Linked DNA regions of Homo sapiens: regions 1, 2 and 4 are each linked to region 3. Evidence: fine-mapped expression QTL. A gene starts in region 3. Each other region holds a variant in brackets. All regions are shown on one strand. Distances are from middle to middle. Region 1 overlaps CENPP (centromere protein P). Region 2 overlaps FGD3 (FYVE, RhoGEF and PH domain containing 3). Region 3 holds the start of CARD19 (caspase recruitment domain family member 19). Region 4 overlaps WNK2 (WNK lysine deficient protein kinase 2).

The links. PIP is the estimated chance that this variant, and not a neighbour inherited with it, causes the effect.
Region 1: its variant is the best candidate, but not a certain one, in a credible set for the expression of CARD19 in hippocampus (GTEx, PIP 0.57).
Region 2: its variant is the best candidate, but not a certain one, in a credible set for the expression of CARD19 in whole blood (TOPMed, PIP 0.67).
Region 4: its variant is the best candidate, but not a certain one, in a credible set for the expression of CARD19 in whole blood (INTERVAL, PIP 0.73).

The regions. Positions count from the first base shown.
Region 1 is chr9:92,418,133-92,423,132 of GRCh38, reverse strand. The region is part of intron 5 of CENPP (centromere protein P); the gene reads right to left. All of the region lies in intron 1 of OMD (osteomodulin), which reads left to right. Among named protein-coding and RNA genes, the nearest start is that of OMD, 3.8 kb to the left of the region's middle. The variant T/CGGAT (reference allele first, on the strand shown) is at 2,308.
Region 2 is chr9:93,032,870-93,038,035 of GRCh38, reverse strand. It overlaps FGD3 (FYVE, RhoGEF and PH domain containing 3), which reads right to left. Exons shown (of 18, transcript NM_001083536.2): 16 at 5,163-5,166; 17 at 3,355-3,495; 18 at 1,803-2,698. The coding sequence ends at 2,447. Among named protein-coding and RNA genes, the nearest start is that of SUSD3, 23 kb to the left of the region's middle. RefSeq lists enhancers at 556-1,449, 2,276-3,069. The variant C/T (reference allele first, on the strand shown) is at 3,221.
Region 3 is chr9:93,093,521-93,098,712 of GRCh38, reverse strand. CARD19 (caspase recruitment domain family member 19) reads right to left here and starts at 2,496. Exons shown (of 6, transcript NM_032310.5): 1 at 2,361-2,496. The coding sequence starts at 2,367. LOC101927993 (a long non-coding RNA gene) reads left to right here and starts at 3,203. Exons shown (of 4, transcript NR_188444.1): 1 at 3,203-3,345; 2 at 3,699-4,142. RefSeq lists enhancers at 196-265, 3,459-3,508 and silencers at 2,139-2,248, 2,269-3,018, 3,039-3,348.
Region 4 is chr9:93,313,629-93,318,820 of GRCh38, reverse strand. WNK2 (WNK lysine deficient protein kinase 2) reads right to left here. Exons shown (of 30, transcript NM_006648.4): 29 at 1,190-1,301. Among named protein-coding and RNA genes, the nearest start is that of WNK2, 130 kb to the right of the region's middle. The variant C/T (reference allele first, on the strand shown) is at 2,998.

The DNA.
Region 1 (5,000 bases), 680 kb after region 3:
GAATATGTTCATTTGAAGAAATTATCATAGTGAAATAAATGCCTAGGAATAATCAACATTAGTAGAGAGAAGCATTTGCTAGCAAGCCTTAACCTATAACTTATTAACTTATTCATTCAACACACCTTTGAGCACTTATAACACTGCATTGTATTAGATTCTGTTAAAAGATATTAGGAAATGAGATGATCAACAATGAATTATACAATATTGCTGTGAGTTATCCTATAGAGAACAAGGCATACATTGTAGAGTATGAAAAGCAGAAGTAACAAAAATATGCTTAGCAAATGACTCAGAAGAGATTAGTTGGGGAATGAAAAATTTGGATAAAATAAGAGATTGTTGTAACAGGGGAAATTATCCTGGGGAAAGAGCAAGAGGCATAGAAAATAATGAGCATATAGATGAAAACAGGATGGATTTCAAAACAGAAAACTGCACTTAATCAAAGGGAGTGGGACAAGATTGTACTACATGGTTAGGAACGTGGAGGGAGGAGGACAAGGATGTTTAAGATAAGTTCAGGTTTAGAAGAGAAATTGTTCCTCAAGGAAAGACTTTCTTCTTAGGTGCTCACAAAGGCGGAAAGCAGACAATATTAAAAACCTCTTTATTTTCAGAGACGCCCCAGTCATGTCTTGATTCAAGGCCTTCTTCTTTTTTCCCAACAATTTTTCATAGTTGTTGAACAACAGACTCTAATTCTCAAATGTAAGGTTGATAACTGATGATTAGCTAATGTTCTCAACAAAGGGATAAAATTCAAGCTGAGTTTTCAGCCAGGCAGGTGGCTCACACCTGTAATCTCAGCACTTTGGGAGGCTGAGGTGGGCGGATCACCTGAGGTCAGGAGTTCGAGACCAGGCTGGCCAACATGGCAAAATCCCGTCTTAACTAAAAATACAAAAAAATGTAGCCAGTCGTGGTGGTGCACGCCTGTAATCCCAGCTACTCAGGAGGCTGAGGCACAAGAATCACTTGAGCCTGGGAGGCGGAGGTTGCAGTGAGCCGAGATTGTGCCACTGCACTCCAGCCTGGGTGACAGCACGAGACTCTTGTCTCCAAAAAAAAAAAAGTTAATATGTTATACTATAATAAGTACAATAAAATATTATAAAATTATACATAAAATATCATCAATGAGTATAAAATGTATAGAATATTCTATATCCATTCCTATTAATCTCCCAAAGTCTGGGTCAAATGATGTCTACAAAAGACTTTCCTGTCTCCGTAAGGCTGAGGTAAGCCACTGGCCCCACAGCATTGCCTATCTCTGCTATAAAGGATATTACCCTCTGCCTTAGATTAGGGTTCACTTTGTTGTATCTCTCTCCTCCACTAAGCTGTTTGCTCTTTACAGAAGGGACTATGGCTTCACGTCTTCTTCATTTCTGTATTCTCCACCAACTTAGCATAGTGCCTCATCACTAGAAATAATTCAGGACAACGGTAAACTGATGTAACCCAATCAAACTAACTACTAATATTTGTAAAGTGCTTCACTAAGCATGTTTACATACAGTAAAGTAGTAGAGTACACTAGGTGAATAAGCATTTCCAAGCAGACCCACTGGGAGCTTCCAGCCCAGCAAGGAGAGCCTGCTCTGAACACTGCCCTTTGGTATGATACCATAACTCCTTAAATCTACCTCCTTCCAAGATTCTCTACTTTTTCACCCACGAACACTGACTGTAGTGTGAAATCACAGCCCAAATATGTTAATTCATTAAATTAGGCATTCATTCCCAGAGTGCAAATTCCTCAGGTCAGAATTTAGGCCCTCCAAGGCCGGGGGTGGTGGCTCATGCCTGTAATCCCAGCACTTTGGGAGGCTGAGGGGGGCAGACTGGTTGAGCCCAGAAGTTCATGACCAGCCTGAGCAACATGGCAAAACCCTGTCTTTACAAAAAATTAAAAAATTAGCCAGGTGTGGTGGCACGCATCTGTAATCCCAGCTACTCAGGAGGCTGAAGTAAGAGAGTCACTTGAGCCCAGGAGATGGAGGGTGAGCCAAGAGTGCACCACTGCGCTCCAGCCTGGGTGACAGAGTGAGACTGTCTCAGAAAAAAAAAGTTAGGCTAATCCCTTCAGATCTGGATTTAATAGTCTTATTTTGCTCCTTCAAGAGTTAACCAACCACATTTCCCAAACACATCACCATCTGTTGCTTCTATGTTTTTGCTCATCTCTTCTAGCCAGAGATCTTCTTCCTCACTTCCCTCTATGAGAACCTCAACACTCCTTCAAAGTCTAGGTCAAATGCCACATCTTCCACGAATCTCACAGAAAAGAAAGAAAAA[T/CGGAT]GGATGTAATATAGAGTTGCACAAAGAAACATCATGAATTTCAAAAGCACATATTGTTAAAAAAAAAACAAAAACAAAACCCAAACCATTGCTATTTTGGCATTTTCTTGTAGGTAGGGATACATATAAGAAAATAGAAATAAATGATATCTTGATCCTATTTTCTTGACTTAAAAAAAAGAAGCAAGGTCATCACCCAAAAACAATAATGGGGAATAAGGTATTAGAGGCTTCAGAGAGGAAAGTTACAAAACAGTAGCGTAGAAGAGAGGGAAGGAGGATGGTCTAAGGAAATGCAGCAGGACAGCACTTGAGGTTAGTGGTCTTGAATCGAGAGTGAGACCAGTCACCATGCTCCTGTTTTTCTTTAGTTACATTCAGCTGTGACAGTCAGGCTGTGAGTAGGTAGAGAATTGGAGTAACCAGAGTTGGAGTTTGGCAGATTGAAGGAGCCAGAAAGTTTAGGGCATGTGCAAAAGAGCAACGATAGTGATCAACTATGGGGTCTAAGTTGGTAAGAAGGAACTGACAATGTTGGGAGGTATGGATGAGGGACAGTGAAAAACAGTAGAATCAATATAGCTGAGGTTCCACGGAAATTGGAGAATTATTGCAGCTGGAGTTACTACATAGAGATAGTGGTCTGAGTGCGGAATACTCAAAATGAAGAGTATGAAGGGTTCCAGTAATAGAAAAGACAAAACCCAGGATGCGGGTGCATGGGAGCAAATGGTGAGGAAGAATGAAGGAAAGTATCACTGCAGGAAGAGAGCTCAAGGGTCTCTGACTCTACCTGAATAACTACTTCAAATTCCAAATACACACAATAGTTACATTTATAATTTCTGACAAGAAAAGAAGAAGAAATTGAGATGTTTCTTAACCTTTCTCAAATGGGGTTCTGTCAAAGAAAATAACTTAAGTAACTATTCTCTCAATTATACCAATGATGAAAAATAGCTAGAACCATTCTACATGAACAGGAGATAAGTCATTTCATTATATGCAATGATTTGTTTGGAAACTCATTCTCTCATGAAACCCTGGGTGGGAAAAGTAGAAAGGTCTCAGAATAAAAGAGGTAGGATTTTTTAAAACCTTTTTCCTAAATGATACATTCATTTCATCTGGATAGCAGTTTTCAACGTGCAAAGTACTTGTACATGCATAGCTCATACAATGCTAACAACGACCAGGCGGATAAGCAGGCAAGATATGACACAAGGAGGCTGGATGCAGTGGCTCACGCCCGTAATCCCAGCACTTTGGGAGCCCAAGGTGGGTGGATCATGAGGTCAGGAGTTCGAGAGCAGCCTGGTCAACATGGTGAAACTCCATCTCTACTAAAAATACAAAAATTAGCCGGGTGTGGTGGAGTGCACCTGTAATCCCAGCTACTGGGGAGGCTGAGGCAGGAGAATTGCTTAAACCCAGGAGGTGGTGGCTGCAGTGAGCCGAGATCGCACCACTGCACTCCAGTCTGGGCAACAGAGCAAGACTCCATCTCAAAAAAAAAAAAAAAAAAAGACACAAGGCAACATACAAGATAAGCAGCCAAGGTATAATTCAGCTATAATTGCAATTCTTATTTTATTGATGAGGCAAGAGGCAGATATGTTAAGTGACAGAAATGAAATATAGGTTTCAGGCTTCTCATCTGGGACATAATTGACCCTTCCCTAGAACTTCAAGTTTCAGCACTGAGTGTTCATTGTGAAGTGTGCCCTTTTGCAATTCTTTTCCACACAATATCCTCCTCCTGCATTCTACTGCACGTGTATTTGATTCTCCACAAGACTTTAAACACCTGGGAGACAAGGACAGTGTGTTTTTAATAATATTTTTGTATCTAAAACTTAAATATATTAATGGAAAAAAGGAAGCTAGGAAGAAAAATGTAAAGACACTTGAACTTTGTAGAATGTAAACACTGTATGTCTTTAGGATTTAAAGTAGTTATTCAAGCAGAGTCGGAGACTAAATAATTGGATTCTGGAAACTGTTTCATGAGGAAAATTTGATGGTGCTGTTAGTTTTGGACAGAAAATATTAAAAGGAAACATGAATACTATTTCTAAATATCTGAAGTTATCACACAAAAGGGAGCATTTCACGTTCTTCTGAAGGGCAGAAAAAGGTATCAGCAAATAGAAGTTGTAGAATCTCCCAGGCAAAAGCTCTCTAACTAAAATAAAGGTCTTTCCTCCCCCAGGCAGTGACCATCATTAAAGGATCAGGTAATTCCAAAGAACACACAGCATTTACAGTGGAGGGATCAGACTGTAGTTGACTGATGTCATGCTATTATCATAGATCTATACCCTAGTAAGCAAGAGAAACTGGGACTCTTAAAAGATGGTTACTTAGTAGAAAGTCTAGTATACCAGACTTTTGACTCAAGTTCAGTGTAATATGTGACTTAAAAAAAAAAAAAATCTCGGCCAGGCGCAGTGGCTCACGCCTGTAATCCCAGCACTTTGAGAGGCTGAGGTGGGTGGATCACCTGAGGTCAGGAGTTAGAGACCAGCCTGGCCAAGATGGAGAAACCCCGTCTCTACTAACAATACAAAAATTAGCCAAGCGTGGTGGCACGCGCCTGTAGTCCCAGATACTTGGGAGGCTGAGGCAGGAGAATCACTTGAACCGGGGAGGTGGAGGCTGCAGTGAGCCAAGCCTGCACCACTACACTCCAC
Region 2 (5,166 bases), 61 kb after region 3:
TCTGGAGGGGGGTGGCCTTGGGGAGAAAGGGGAGGGAGGATGGTAAAGAGGCCAAAAGCCAGCATGCGACCAGCCAGCATGTGTCCAGGCTCTGCCACTCCATGGACGGGCAGTGGAGTGTGCCCAGGCCCTGGGCTGTGGGATGGGAGGGCTGGAGCTGGGGGCGGGGCAGTGTGTGGCGAGAGGCCAGGCCCAGGCAGCCAGCTCCCCAGCAGCATCCTTGCTGGGGTGTCCCGCAGGAGGGGTCTCTGGGAACAGACCCTAGGAAGGCCAGCTCTGTAAGGGCACAGCACGCAGGCTCTGCATGCTGGAGGCCTCTCACTGCCCCTGTCTGAGCCTCAGCTTCCTCTTTTGGAAAAAGTGGGAACAGACTACAGCCACCAGTATGACAGCAAACAAGCTCCCATCAGCACTGGCCTCGCAGCAGGCGGCAGAGTCTGGGGGCACGCCCTGCCCCCAGGCCTGCGGTGACAGACCTTGTCTCTGCCTCCCAGCGGACTAGCCAGGTTGGTGGGTGCAAGAGAGAGGGCTCGAGGCTAGGGGACTCTCCATGGCGACCCCACAGCACAGTCTTTGGCCCCAGCAGACACCTGCCCTGCTGGATTCACCATGGCCGGCAGGCCAATTCCAGGTGCCTGCTCGGTTCCGGAGCTGTGGGGCTCTGGGGGTGGCCTCTCTATGACTCAGTTTCCTCAGCTGTCAAGTGGGGATTTCCTGGGGTTGTGGTGAGATGGCAGAAATAGAACTACTGAAGCAGGCAGAGGACGGAGTCCTGACCCTTCAAAGAAGGGCCTCATTAGGGCTGCAGCCGATGCTTAGTAGACGTGTGTGAGGGAGCGGCTCCGGCACTGCTCTGTAGGGGATGAATGTGAGTCAGAGCTCAGCTCTGCAGGGGAGAAGGCAGGGCCAACGGGCTGGGGTCCCCTCGAGGCCTCCTCCACCCCGTCCCTGCTCCAGCCTGAGCTGGGTGAGGGGCTTTGCTGCTTCCTTGGGCAGCAGCTGGAGCCGATTGAGACGCTGCTGTGCAGCTGAAAGGGTCTGATTCCATCTCCCCCTGGTGGGCACTGTCCAATGTGGAAGTATGCAGGTTGTTTAGCATCCCTGAGCCTCAGTTTCCTTAGTGTGAAGTGGGACCAGAACATCCAGCATAGCATGGGAAGCTGTGGCAGAGGCCCAGGTAGCCAGCAGGGGCTCCGTGTGCAGTGGCTGCAGCAGCATCCCAAGCGTGGCCCAGCTAGAGCTCGTGGGAGCTCACCTGTGCCCTCACCTGTGCCCCCATCTCAGCTGTCTCCGCCTCACCTGTGTTCTCATCTCACCTGTCCCCCCCATCACCTGTGACCAGTCTCCCATTTCTGGCTCTTCCTCCTGCCCTCTCAGTCCCCCAGGTAGGTGCCCTGCTTGTCTTCCCAGGTGTCTCCACATGGTGCTATATGGATATTAGAGGGGCGGGGGTCCTGACCAGTGAGCACCCCCAATCACTGGTCCCTAAATTCCCCCACTCTCTCCCAGAGGCCCTCAGGGCTCTGATGCAAACAGCACCCCCACCCCAAGTAGCCTTTGCAAGGTCCCCACTGGCACCATCTTGAGTGCCCTGCACCCCACCCTCCCCATCTCTGAGCCTGGCCATCTTCACCTGCCACCTGCCCACCCCCTGGCAGGACAACAGATGCAGAACTGCTTTCCAGGTGGTGTGTGGCCGATGTGATTCCATCACCCTTGTCCCTCAACCCTTTATCAGCCAGCCCACCTTGTGGGGGGACGCTGCTGAGGGGCTGGGGAGAGATCACCGAGGCTGCGCCCACTGCTGGTGGCCAGTGTTTATTTATGCAGATAAGCACTGTGTGCCACTAGCATCAGGAACAGCCACAAATCTCATGCGCCTGCCACTCAGTGGCTGGGGTAAGTCCTAGCAGAGCTTCTGAGCGTGGTTATTTAGGAACCATGAGTCCAGCTAGGATGGGGCAGGCCCACCTCCTGGGGGCTGCAGGCAGAACCTCAGGAGAGGACAGAGAAAGGAGGTGGGAAGCAAGTCACGATTCAGCTCACACGGTGTAGACAGGCTGGGCAGAGGCGGGGTGGACCACGCTGCAGACCAGCAGGATGTGGCTGTCCCTGGCAGTGCCCATGCTGCCTCTTTCTGCCTTCCGGGCCAGCATCACCACACGGCCCATATGGATGATGGTTACTTTGGCAGTCGGCCCCTGCTCTGGGCCACACTGCTGGGGCTGGAGGCCAGGCTCTTAGCCAAAACTTGCTGGGTGACCCTTGGCCAGTGGTTGCCCCTCTCTGGGCCTCAGTTTCCTTCCCCCCAAAGCCAAGTGTCCTGAGCTCTGGGCTGTTGGCCCACCCTCAGCAGTCCAGGGCGCTCTTCATGGGGCCTCCAACACCACCTCCCAGGACAGCACAGGTCCAATGTGGTGGTGTGCAGGGCAGTGGGAGACTCAGCTCACGGAGCAGCTGCGCCCATAGGGACCTGAAGCTGCAGGGCCCCCGGGCTGTCCTGGGCCGTGTCCCCATGGGCAGCAGTGCTTAGGGTTTCCAGCCACTGCTGCTGCAGCTCTGCGGAGGAGGCGCTCAGGTACCAGGACTGCTTGGCCCACTGCAGCTTCCACACATGCCCCGAGTCCAGCCTCTCCTCAGGGTCCGGCACACTCAGTTTGCAGCTGGGGAGAGGGATGGTGCGGGGCAGCCGGCCGTCCTGCAGCAGAGGAGCAGATGGTCAGCGGGGCCACAGCTTCCCGGCCTCGGGCTCACCTCAGTGATGGGGGCCTCTCCCAGGAGGCCACTCCCAGACCCTTGCAACGCAAGGCAGGTGCTGAGCCCGAGGGGTCTGGTGGCTGTGCCTGCACTGCCTTTTGTCAACAGGAGGACGGTCGGTGGGGGCATCCACTGGTTCTTCCCGAGGGAGATATAGGGAGGGGGATGCCTTGCCCACCTCACCAGACCCCCAGACTCCATGGCCTTCTTTGGGCTGTCTGGCCCCTGGGGAGGCGAGGCAGGACAGGCCAGCCCCTGTGACAGAGTAGCAACTGGGGCTCCAAGGGGCCGGGCCAGGGCTGTGTGGGTTCCTGAGTCTCCCCTGACAGGTTCTGTGGCTCCTGGCCACCCTTTGTGCCCCCTTGGCCCACCCCTCCTTGCACCCTGGCTGGCTCTGGGGTCCACCCAGGTGCCAGTAGGTTCTGTCTCCTGTGACTGGCAAGCAGAGGGAATCCTGCGCTGC[C/T]GGGGAAACTGAGGCCCCAGGTAACACTGCTCAAGCAGGTGGACCCCAGCTGGTGGCACAGGCCTGCTGTGGGTGCCTCAGGCCTGAGGCTCTGGGCTGCTGGCCTGAGGGCCTGGTGGGGTGGGGACACGTACCTGGCTGCCTCCCTGCAGGTGCAGCACCTGGGGATCTGACATGGGGATGGCGGCCCACACCTCGCTCCAGGTCTCACCGCTCTCTGACAGCCGCAGGGGGCCGCAGAGCAGGCTGGGCTGGGGGTCTGCAGTGGGTGTCTTCTGGGGACACAAAGACACAGGTTAGGGGCAGTCTCCCCTGCAGTGGTCACCCCTGTTCTGAGGAGGCTGGGGTAGGGCCAGGGCCACTGCTTGGGGGGAGCTGGCTGTGGAGACATGGCCAAGATCTGCACAGAGACTGGGACCAGCCTCACCCGGCTTGCAAGGGTCACTAGAAGCCTGCAGGACATAGGCATGTGTGGTATCAGATGGGGTTTGCAGGCTGGGCCCTCCAAGGGGAGGGCATCCATATGCTGGGTCAGGACACATCAAAATCATAGGAAAACCCAACAGCAAGTACCTGAGGGTGGGTCACGGGACAGGGACTTCAAGCGTGTCAGTTCTACACACACCATATACATGCACGTGCGTGCACACACAGCACACACACACACACCACACACACAGGCCCTCCCTCTGTCATGTCACTGTTGGAGCTACTGTCCACCATTTGGACGTGGCTTAGACACCCCCTGCCAGAGCTGGACCCCTCAGACCTGGGCCCCCCTTCGAGGCCAGAGTCCACCTTACAGGGCCCTGGAGGCCCGTGCCCCAAGGACCTGGGGCTCTCAGAACACACCTCGGTATTTAAATTGCAGGCATGAGGGAGCTCGGTAGGCAGTGCAAGGTCCTTCTTCACCATCAAGACCATTCAACACTCAGTCCTAATAGACTTACATCCTTGACTTCTTAGACCAAGGACCTAGGTCAGGGCTCCAACCACAGCTGTAAGTCAGAGCAGCTGGGACTCTGAAAACACACTGACCCCCCGATCACCTCACTGAGCCTCTAGGAGGGAGATCAACACTAGAAGCTTCCCAGGAGACTCCAACGTGCAGCTGGCACTGCAAACCGCAGGCTGTGTCGAGTGGAGAGAAAGGGCGATGTGCTTTTCTGGAAACTCACGTTTTCTTTTTCAGCTGTCCTGCAACCCCCCAGAATAGACTGTATTCTTGAGGAAGGAAGTCAGGGAAAGCAGCAGCTACTCTCAGAAAGAGGAGTGGAGGAGGAAAAGAGGAAGAGAAAGAGAGGAGGAGAAGGGGAGGGGGAGGAGGAGGGAGAGAAAGGAGGAGGAGAAGGAGAGGGAAGAGTAGAAAAAGGGTACGGGGAGGAGAAGGAGCAGGAGGAGGAGGGAGAGGAGAAGGAGAAAGACAGCGAGGCGGAGGGAGAGGAAGGAGGGAGAGGAAGAGGAGAAGGGGACGGGGAGGAGGAGGAGAAGGGGACGGGGAGGAGGAGGAGAAGGGGACGGGGAGGAGGAGGAGGGGGTGCCTGCCTCCAGGGCCCTGCTCACCCTCTGACAGCTGGAGGTGAGGCAGGCAGAGAGAAGGGCAGTATCTCCCCTCAGGTGGGCCTCAAGGCCTGGACTTGAGGGCAGCTTCAATCCATGCCCTCCAACCAGGTGACCAGGAGTGACACTTGTTCCCATCTAACTCCTGGATGCAAATGGTTCCCAAGCCTTGGCCCTGGCTGGTCCCGAGAAGCCAGCGTGCACACACGGGATCTTCCGAGTGTGTTCCCAGCCTGGGGGCCCCACTGAGACACACCCACATCTATCCTGGTCCCAGGGACACTCCGAAAGCAGAGGCAGCTGGAGCTGCTGGGGCACAGGAGCAGGTGTCTGGAGGCTCTGCCGCGCCACCAGGAGGGGAGCAGGAGCTGGGAGCACCCACCTCT
Region 3 (5,192 bases):
AGGCTCTGCGGCTTGGGGGTCCTGTGCTTCCTGTGGTTGCGAGTTGTGCACACAAACAGGCAGCACTTGGAAGCCAGAAAAGGCACAAGAAGGGAAACCATCTCAGTGCCAGCTCCCGATAAACAAGTCCCTGAACTGTTTTTACAGGACAAAGGAAGATGGCTCGCTCTGGCACAGACCTGGCAAGCCTTCACCACGCCCTACATCCCCTTCCTTCTTGCCAGGCTGGCACCAGGACTATGGACCCCCATTCAAACACCCCAATATGAACCTTCTTATCAGCCCAGACTGATGCCCTCAGCCTGGCATTCAAGGCCCCGTGGGAGCTGGCCCCACCCACTCTCACCGGGCCCTCTAGGCCCACAAGACATCTCAGCCCAGGCTGAGAATACCTGTTCCTTGGTTTCCACCTGGTTAATTCATGTTCACCTTGCTGTTCTACGTGCAAAAGGCCTTCCTGAGTTCCTGTCATCCCCAACCAACTGGAGTCCAGACACTTGGGCATCAACCTCCTCTCCCGAATTTCTTCCAGGAAACCCCTTCTCTCAGTGCTCAGCCCAACTAAAACTGCTCACTCCCCGGCACAGCCCAGGGGGTAACTTGTCAAGCACCTGCCCCACGCAGACACCTCCTCAGCGTTCTGCAGGCACTGGCTCACATGCGCTGCTCACAGCGAGGGCTGGCGCAAGGCAGGACCCCAGTTGGTGCATGGAGGCAGTGAGCCTGGGACTATGGGTCTGCAGCCTCGCAGGGCTGTCCATATGACCCTCCCAGAGCTGTGCTCCATGGGCCTTGGTTCCCCATCCCAAAAACTAAGGGTTGTGAGGGAATGTCTCCAGGCCCAGTGAGTAGACATAGCAGGTAGGAAGCATACACTGGACAAGGTGAGGCCTATAGTCAGAGCCTTCAGGGACCCCTGCCTGATGTGGTTTCCCAGCTCCAGGGTCCCCTTATGCAAGGAAGCTTCCCTGACAGGCAGAAAGGGACAAAGTCCCTTTGTGCAGGAAGGCTCCTTAATGGACAGCAAGGCCTCAGGCTCTGCCAACACCCAGTCCCTGGGACAGGGCTCCCTGGAGACCAACACAGCTCTGAGTTGTGTCCCACGCATTCTGATGAACTCACTAAGGGAATTACGGAATCCCAGCCTGGGCAGGGCACAATTTAAGACTTTGTTTCCCCATCTGTACACAGACGAGATATTCCAGGTGTCCCCATCTGATCATTTTCAAACAGGAATCACCCAACACAGGGTCCAATGCACAGTAAGTGCTCAGAAATGAGAGCCACAAATAAGAAGAGTTAGAAGGGAGGACAAAGGGGAGCAGGTGGCAGCTGGGGTCTCTTGTGGCCTAGGCTGGAAGTCTCTTCTGGCCTGGTGTCCTGGAAGTCATCAGTTTCCAGCCCATGAGATCCTATTTGTGGGCAGGACCTAGGCTGAGACTCAAGAGAGCGAGCACCGAGAGAGGACTAGGGACTTCTGGGGCTACCCTGAGCCCCTGAGCCAATTCTGCTCCATGAAACAGAACAGTAAGAATGAAGTGTAGCTTCTGGGAACCCCCATACTCCCTGGCCGGGCTGCCATGGGGTCCCTTACCAGCCCATCACCCTCATGGGGCTTCTCCAACAGGGGAAGGTCCACAGGGCAGAGTCACCCTGTTTGGGATCAGGAGGATGGTGGGCAGGTCCCCAGACCAGAGAGGCCCTGGGGAGGAAGGCTGGGCTGGGGCCACTAGCGTGGAGCACAACAACCTTGGGGGGTCCAGTCGCTGTCCCCGATTCTCTTAGAACTAAACAGGGGCAAGAGCGTCGTGGACCACCGAAGGAGTCTGGGAGACTCCAAGAGTCCCACAGGAATCACATGCCGCCGAGGAACGCATCGCCTGTCCCGCGACCTCGCTGGGGTGGTTGTAAGGATGGAGCGTTGTTTCCGTGGCCAGAATCACAGCAGGACCGCTGTGAATTCTCTCCGGTGTCATTTCTACCACCTCCTACTCTTTCAGACCAAATTCCCCACCACGGGACACACACACATTGGCAGTGGCTGAGCCCAGACCGCGGCTGTGCAGCCCCACCCTGGAGCTGCCTTGTAGCCCCCGCCCTCTTCGGGCCCCGCACCTGGCCACCACCCATCATGCCCGGCACCGCCTCGGCTGGCACGGCCCCGCCGGGTAGAAGCCCCGGGACACCCACCACTTCGCGGGGGTGCACTCGCGCACCACCGACAGCTGACGGGCCAAGGTCACTCGGCCCCCGCTGCCCAGGCGCGGCCTGCAGGCGACTCGCAAGGCAGCCGGACCCCCGGGCCGGGCCACCCATCCAGGGCGCCCGCATCCCTGCCGCCCAGCCGACCCCGTGCCCACCTGTCATGGCGACGGACACAGCGCCGCCCGCAGTCCCCAGCGGTCTGCCCCGCCGCGCGTCCGCCCCTCGGTCAGCCGCCCGGTCCACCAGCTCCAGCGAACGCCGCCCGCGGGCCGTGCTCGCCCGCCCCTTTTGGCTAGGCCAGCCCCCCGGCTTTGGCTGTGTAGCCTCGGGGACTCTAAACCCCGCCCTTTGACGAGCCCCGCCCCCTACCGTTAGGCCCCGCCCCTTCCGCGCCCGCTACGGCTCCCCCAGGGCTCTAAACTCCGCCCCTCTCACTCGAGTCCCGCCCCCTTGCCGTCCTGGGATAGGCCGCTGCGAGGATCCTGGAGCCTTGCCCCTCACTCGAGCCCCGCCCCCTCCGGCGTCGGCTTCCGCCTCTCCCGGAGTTCTGAGCCCCGCCCTGCACCTGAACCCCGCCCCCTCCGACGACGGCTTCCGAGCCTCAAGGAACCCCCCACCGGGCCCCGCCCCTTACTCGAGCCCCGCCCCCCTCCGTCGTCGGCCTCCGCGCCTCCAGGGGCCCTGAGCCCCGCCCCTTCCTGCTCTGCCATGCGACTGCGGGCGTGGGCGGGCGACTGCGGGCGTGGGCGGGCGCCACCGGACTCCCGCCCCTCCCAGCGTCAGTTAAGACGCCGCGAGGGGCCCAGAGTCCCTCCCCTCGCTGGGCCCCGGTCCCGCCGGCGTCTATAACGCCGTCGCAGCGGCCTTTAACCCCGCCTCTCACTCGAGCCCTGCCCGCGTCCAAGTCCCGCCCTCAAGGCGGCCTCAGCTACGACCGCCGCGCGCCTCCCTGGAGGCGCCCGCTCCTGCCCGGAGCCCTGCCCGTCTTGGGCCCGCCCTTCCGGGCCCTGCCGCGTTGAGTGGCGGAGTCGGGATCCAGGTGGCCCGCCGGCCGGCTCAGTCCACCTCCCCGCTCCCGGCCTCGCGCCCCACCCCTTGGATGAGAAAACTGAAACTGAGAGGGGACGTGACTGATCCAACGTCATACAGAAAGTCAGGCCCTGGGGAGTACAGGGCCAGGCCTGGGGCAAAAGGCCGGTGGGCGTCCAGTACGCCACAGGGACCAGCCAAAGGAGGCAGTGCCCAGTGATGCTTTCCCAAATCCAGGGGAGAAGGACTCAACGGTGTGACCTCGCTCGGCGGGGTGGGGGGGGGACACCTTCTTGGGGGACCCCAGTCCCCCACCTTCAAAAGAAGACACTAGCTTGACAGTGTGACCCGAACTAGAGAGGTCACTTAACCTGCCTGAGCCTCAGTTTCCTGGACTGTAAAATGAGTGACCTTGGGCCAACTCCACTTCCCTCCCGCTTTCCTTCCTGCTTTCCCTCTCGTAGGCCTGGCATTTCCAGCTCCGGAGCCCGCCACAAGAAGCTCCTAGCCCCACATGATGTGAATGCACTGGGCCCCAGCCAGGAAGTGGAGACCCGTGAAGGAAGGAATAGCAGCACTCTCCCAGCCAGCAGCAGCAGTTTCCCTTCCTCTTTCCTTCCCTGCCTGTGTGGGCCGTTCCCCCATAGCAGCTCTAATTTGAGATGCCAGAGCCTGACCCGGAATGGGGGCCCAACTCAGTGTCCCCTTCTCGGACAGCACAGTGGTCCCTGCAGTCCATGCGCCATCTGTCTCTTTGCCTCAGTTCTCCCCTGTGCCATGACCTCCCATCAGGGCCGGCATAGGGGGCATCAGGAGAATGGGTGCAGTTGTCACCTGGAAACCTCAAAATTCTTGGGGCCCAGTCATGGTCACTATACAGCAGCCACCCCTGTCCCCAAACACTGAAGGTGAGCCCCGTCCATGCTCCCCAGGAGGCCAGGCTGCCATCAGACCCAGCCTGCCCCAGGCCCATGTACAGGGCCGTCCCAGGGCAGGAGGGTAGTGGACCAGCCTGTGGGTCCCTGCAGGCCTCTCATCTGCTTGTGTGCCTGGGTGAGTCCAGGCTGGCTCTGGCCTCCAGGTGCTCCCCTGGAGGACCCAGAGGGGGCTTCCCCAGAGGGCCTCTTTTGCCCCAGTGGGATGCAGCCTGACCCCAATTCTTCTGCATCCATCACACTGTTATGACGTGTAGTACTTACTTCTCTGGGTTTATTTTGCACACACTCCTGCCCCTGAGTGATGTCAGAGCCATAAGGGTGGCGACGGAGTGGAAGGGGGACACAGTGGGGACTGCAGGGGCTCCAGGCACTGCCCACCTTCAGGGAACCTTGACCCCAGCCCCTTTTGGGAAAGGTAGCATCCCACCTTCACATCCACTTCTGCGCCCTCAGGACTGCCCCTGGCCATGTGATGAACAGGGAAACTGAGGTTTGGAGCATGAAGCCCCTTGCCCAAAATCTAGCAGCCAGATGTGGCCTCCCAAGTACAGGTCGCTGTTCCTCAGCCACCTGAGGGTTTGAAAAGGATTTACTTAAAGGAACCCAAGCCTGCATGCAGGGACTGAAAGCCCTGTGCCCTCTGGGATGTGCCCTCCAACCCTATGAGATGGAAGGCCGCGGCAGAAAGCAGGACAGCTGCTGGTGCAGCCAGGGGTGTACAGCCTGGATGCCCACCACGGGGGCTGCAAGCAGGCACGGGCACCCCATGGTCAAATGGCAGATCCTGGGCATTCCCCCTCCCCCAGGCATAGCACACGCATCCTCCCTCCGGGCTAGCTCTTGCCAGCTGTGGCTGCCTGGACCCCAAATGGAAAGTGAGTTCTTGGGAAGGTGGAGGGGCCCCTTAGAAGGAGTGAAGTGAGGTGTGACAGGAAGCCCCGCCCTTGGACACTGTCAAAGAAAAACCAGAGCTGGACTGTGGTTACAGATGTAGAAACAGATTTTTATTCGGGACTCTTG
Region 4 (5,192 bases), 220 kb before region 3:
TGTGTTGTGCCCACTGGGGACGAGTCCCACTGAAATCTCCAGGAGAAGAATGACCCCGCCCTCCGCAGAGCAGGCTTAGGGCTGGACGGGAGAGCGGTCTGCATGCCAGGGGTGAGCAGAGCCACAGGTCTCCATGGAAATCATGGAGAAGGGAGGGAAGTGGGCAGGAGAGAGGGCAGCCTCTCCAGCTGGAGGAGCTGCACTTGTCTCCACAGGGTGGGCGGGCAGCCAGGGTTTCTATGCCCAACACACACCTTATCCTCACTCACAGCAGCCCACTGGCATGGGGGGCATGTCTGCTCACCTAACGTTTTCTGGCGGATTTCTCATGGCCCAGCGCAACAACTGACATTCCCTACTGAGCAAGCAGCTCCGCCAGTGTGCCCTGCCCCAGCGTCCCGCCGTCTCTCAGCCCCTGGATGAGCCCAGGGAACCGGCACTCTACTGAGGACAAAGCAGGGCTCACCTAGCAATGGAAGCTCTTCAATACTTAAGGTAGCTAATTCAATGTTTGTAAAAGGCATTTACAACAGAAAACCAAAGATTGAACTTCAGCTTCAGATTTGTAAACCATTCACATCTCTGCAACTTAAAACAGTAAATAAAGATTATCAATGCACAAGCCAATTGCAAATGAAACCTTTTCCGATAATTTTTTTTAACATATCTTTTCATCAGGGAACGGAAAAGCTGGCATTCAAGGCACTGTACTTCTGCAGGGTGACGACAAGGTTCTAACCATCAACTCAAGTATAGGAAGTGGGTGTGGAGACGGCGCGTGGACCACAGGAACCTAGGAGCGAACAGGGTCTGAAGCCGCAAAGGAAGCAGTCTTGCTGCCCACCCGCTGTCCCCCTCGCGGCTGAGTGCTGTGCCCACAGCAGGCGGTGGGGGGGACTCGGAGGCCAAACCACACCTGGTTTCTCCGGGCGGTTCCGAGGGCGCCATCTGGCAAGGGACAGGGCAGAAGGCTACGTGATCCGCAGCCGGGGGCCAGGCATGCTGACCACAGGTGGCTGCAAGAAGACTGGCAGCACGGGCACCTGGGGGGTGTTCCAGCTGCCCTGTGCCCCCAGCTGGCCCACCTGGCCTGCCCAGGGCCCCCAGGACACTGGAGCTGGGAGCAGGCCTCTGTACTGACCCAGAGGCAGCGCACAGGGTGGGGTTGGGAGGTTGGAGAGGGCAGTACCTGGTGTGGGCACGGACAGGGTCGGGGCGGCTCCGGGAATGACCGTGGTGGACAGAGGGCCGGGCGCTGGGGGCAGACGTGGCATCCCCACTCCTGCTCGAGGTGCGGTCATCTACAAAACACAGAGACGAGAAGAGGAAGGTACACGTGGCTGCAATCAGCTGGCCTCCCTTAGTGGCCCCCAGGGTGCCACAGTTTCTCCATCCTCAGGAGGCAGCAGTCCTGGAACCTGCTGTGACAGGCACCCTCTCAGGGCTGACACCAGAATGATGGTGTGGGGCCAGGAACCATCACCCTCCCTTGTTTGCTTCCCCAAGCTGCAGCCTGATAGCCTCTAGGCCACACACCTGGGTGTCCACCAGCCAAAATGGGACTTGGAGGAGGACTAGTGGGGCCTGGACCCTGAGGGCGCATGAGTGACCCCACATGCCTCTACTCAGCCACCACAAAGCCCTCCTGCTTGGCTGGTCAGTGCCCTCACAGGAGCATGAACCACCCAGGAGCTGGCAGGAGCAGAGCCCCAGGACCTGGGCAAAGCAAGTGTGCAGGGAGGTGATGGCAAGGCAGCCCTTCCACTGTCCCAGCCCGGGGAGAAGCTGTATGCGGGGTGTGCCCCAGGAAGGCAAGGCTGCTGGCCACGGGGAGTCACTCCTCTCCACTCCAGGGAGGGCCCCACTGGGCACTCTTCACAGGTGCATGGAGGGCACTCGGTGACTTCCACAACCCTTCCTGGAAATCAAGCTCGGCAGTCAGGGGCTGGAGGGGCCTCCTTATCTGGAAGGTCCTCTATGGAACCGACAGCTGAGCCCCTGCCCACGACAAAATGCCCAATACCTCCCCAAGGTGCCTCCATGCTTCCAGTCGACACCACGGGGATCTCCAGGCGGGGAGGAAAAGGAGTCAACCGCACAGACTGGACAGAGAGAAGGAGAACTGGCCTCATGCAGATGACAAGACTGTGTATGCAGAAAACCCACAAGAATGGACAAACCAATTTCTAGAACTAATAGCAAATTTAGCACAATTGCAGGATATGGGGTACGAAAGTCAACCATAGTTTTATATTCTAGCAACAGGAAGCTGGAAAAGGAGATTTAAAGAAAAATAACATTTATAATAGCATTCCAAAACATCAGCTACCTAGGGATAAATTTAATGAAAGAGGTATAACATCTTTACACTGCAGAGAAACAAAAAAGATGCCAGTAAACGGACACTACATTCACAGGAACGCTCATGTTGTTCATATGTCAAACCTCACCCAGATAATCAACAGACTGAATCCACTCCCAGCCGAAATCCCAGTGGGCTAGCCTGCAGAAAGTGACAGGCTGTTCCTAAAACATATGGAAATATTAACGACCTGAAAAAAATCAAGAACTTCTTGAAGAAGATCAACACTGAAAGTCTTTCCTGAGCAAAGATTAAACTTCCTAGAAAACTTCAGTCATGAAGAGAGTGTGGTGTTGCCACAATGATAAGGGAATTGCTAAAGCAAACAAAATAGCAAATTCAGAAATGGACCTACACACAGACGACCACTTGACGAATGTCTGCTCAATTCAGTGCAATTCAATATGGAGAGGAAGGGGCTGGAACGATCAGATATGCAGAGAGGAAAAAAACAGATTTACCTCTGCATCAAAATATACTCAAGAGTTCATTTGAGATGGCTCATGGGATCTAAAGCAATAGCTAAAGCTGCAAAGCTTTTAGGAAAAAAAAAATTAAAATTTTTACCATTTCATGTTCACCATTAAGAAAGTGAAAACACAAACCACAGATTGGTAGACTATATCCATTATATA[C/T]ACACACACACACACACACACACACACACACACACACACAAGGGGTCTTCAAAAAGTTCATGGAAAAGACATACCATGAAAAAACTATGCATGACTTTCAAAAAAAATCTTTGTACCCAAATAAACTTGTACTAACTTATTGCAGCATGTCTGAAGAGGAGGTAGTCTGAGGCACTAAGAAGGAGAAGACTTCAGTTTGAAAAGAGCCCCTATCACAATAACGTGAATTCTGCCAAGCAAGAACCAACATCACATGTATGGTGAAGCTTGGGTGGAAGAATGGTGAGATCACTGATGCTTTCTGAAAAGTTTACAGGGTCCATGTCCCCAAAGAAAATAGCAGTTTACAAATGGTTGACTTGTTTTAAGAAGGGATGAGACCATGCTGAAGACGGAGCCCACAGCGGCAGGCCATCCGCATCACTTTGTGAGGAAAACACTCATCTGGTCTGAGCCGTAAGTGCAGAGGACGGGTGGTTAACAGCAGAAATAGTGGCCAACACCACAGACAGCTCAGTAGGTTGAGCTTACACAATTCTGACAGAAAAATGAAAGTTGAGCAGACTTTCCACTCAATGGGTGCCAAACCCATTGCGCCCACATCAGGCGCAGAGAAGAGCAGAGCTGTCAGTGGTAACTTTGAACAAGTGGGATGGAGATCCTGAAGCTCTCTTTGAACTATAGCGACATGAAACGTGGCTTTCCTGGTATGGTCCTGAAGACCAAGTGCAGTCAAGGCAATGGTGCTGAGGGCTGGAAGTGGTCCCATCAGAGCAAAAGTGGGCCAGTCAAGAGCACATTGTGGCAACAGCTTTTGGGATGCTTAAGGCATTCTGCTTGCTGACTTTCTGGAGGGGTAACAAGGAATGTAACATCTGCTTAGTATGAGAATGTTTAGGGAATGTTAGCCAAAGCTTCAGCAAAACCCCCCCCGGGAAAGCCTCCCCAGAGAGTCCATCTCCATCACGACAATGCTCCTGCTCGTTCCTCTCACCAAAGAAGGGTGATTTTGCAAGAGTTTCCATGGGAAATCATCAGGCATCTACCCTACAGTCCTGATTTGGCTCCCTCTGACTTCTTTTTGCTTCCTAATTTTGAAACATCTGTAAAGGGCACCCATTTTTTGTCAATTAATAATGTAAAAAAGACTCCATGGCCATGGTTAAATTCCCAGGACCATTAGGTCTTTAGGGAGGGACTAAATGGCTGGCATCATTGCTTATAAATGGCTGGCATCATTGCTTATAAATGGCTGGCATCATTGCTTATAAGTGTCTTGAACTTGATGGTGCTTGTGTTAAGAAAAAAGCGTGTATTTCTTCTTTAGTAGCTGTAACTATAGGTATGTGCCACCATGCCCAGCTGTTTTTTTTTTTTCAGACAGGGTCTTGCTCTGTCGCCAGGCTGGAGTGCAGTGGCACTATCTCGGCTCACTGCAGCCTTGACCTCCTGGGCTCAAGCGATCCTCTCACCTCAGCCTCCTTAGTAGCTGTAACTATAGGTATGCACCACCATGCCCAGCTGTTTTTTTATTTTTATTTGAGACGGACTTTTGCTCTTGTCGCCCAGGCTGGAGTGCAATGGCACAATCTCGGCTCACTGCAACCTCTGCCTCCCAGGTTCAAGCGATTCTCCTGCCTCAGCCTCCTGAGTAGCTGGGATTACAGAAGCCCACCACCATGCTGGGCTAATTTTTTTTTTTTTTTTGTACTTTTAGTAGAGACAGGGTTTCACCATGTTGGCCAGGCTAGTCTTGAACTCCTGACCTCAGGTGATCCACCCGCCTCAGCCTCCCAAAGTGCTGGGATTACAAGCGTGAGCCACTGCACCCAGCAGCCCAGCTAATTTTTATATTTTTTGTAGAGATGAGGTTTTGCCATATTGCAAAGGCTGGTCTTGAACTCCTGGACTCAATCAATCCACCTGCCTCAGCCTCCCTAAGTGCTGGGATTACAGGTGTGAGCTACCATGGCCAGCCATATATTTCTTACTTTTATCTTTTAATTCCATTTTTCTGTGAACTTTTGGAAGCCCCCTTGTATATGACAAAAGATATATGATGAACTCCCACAAATCAATAATAAAAAGTTAAACAAATCAACTTTTAAATGGTCACTATCCTTGACCAGGCACTTTTTAAAAGACGGCTGATAAGAATATGAAAATATAAGAATATGAAAATTGTTTAATTTGCT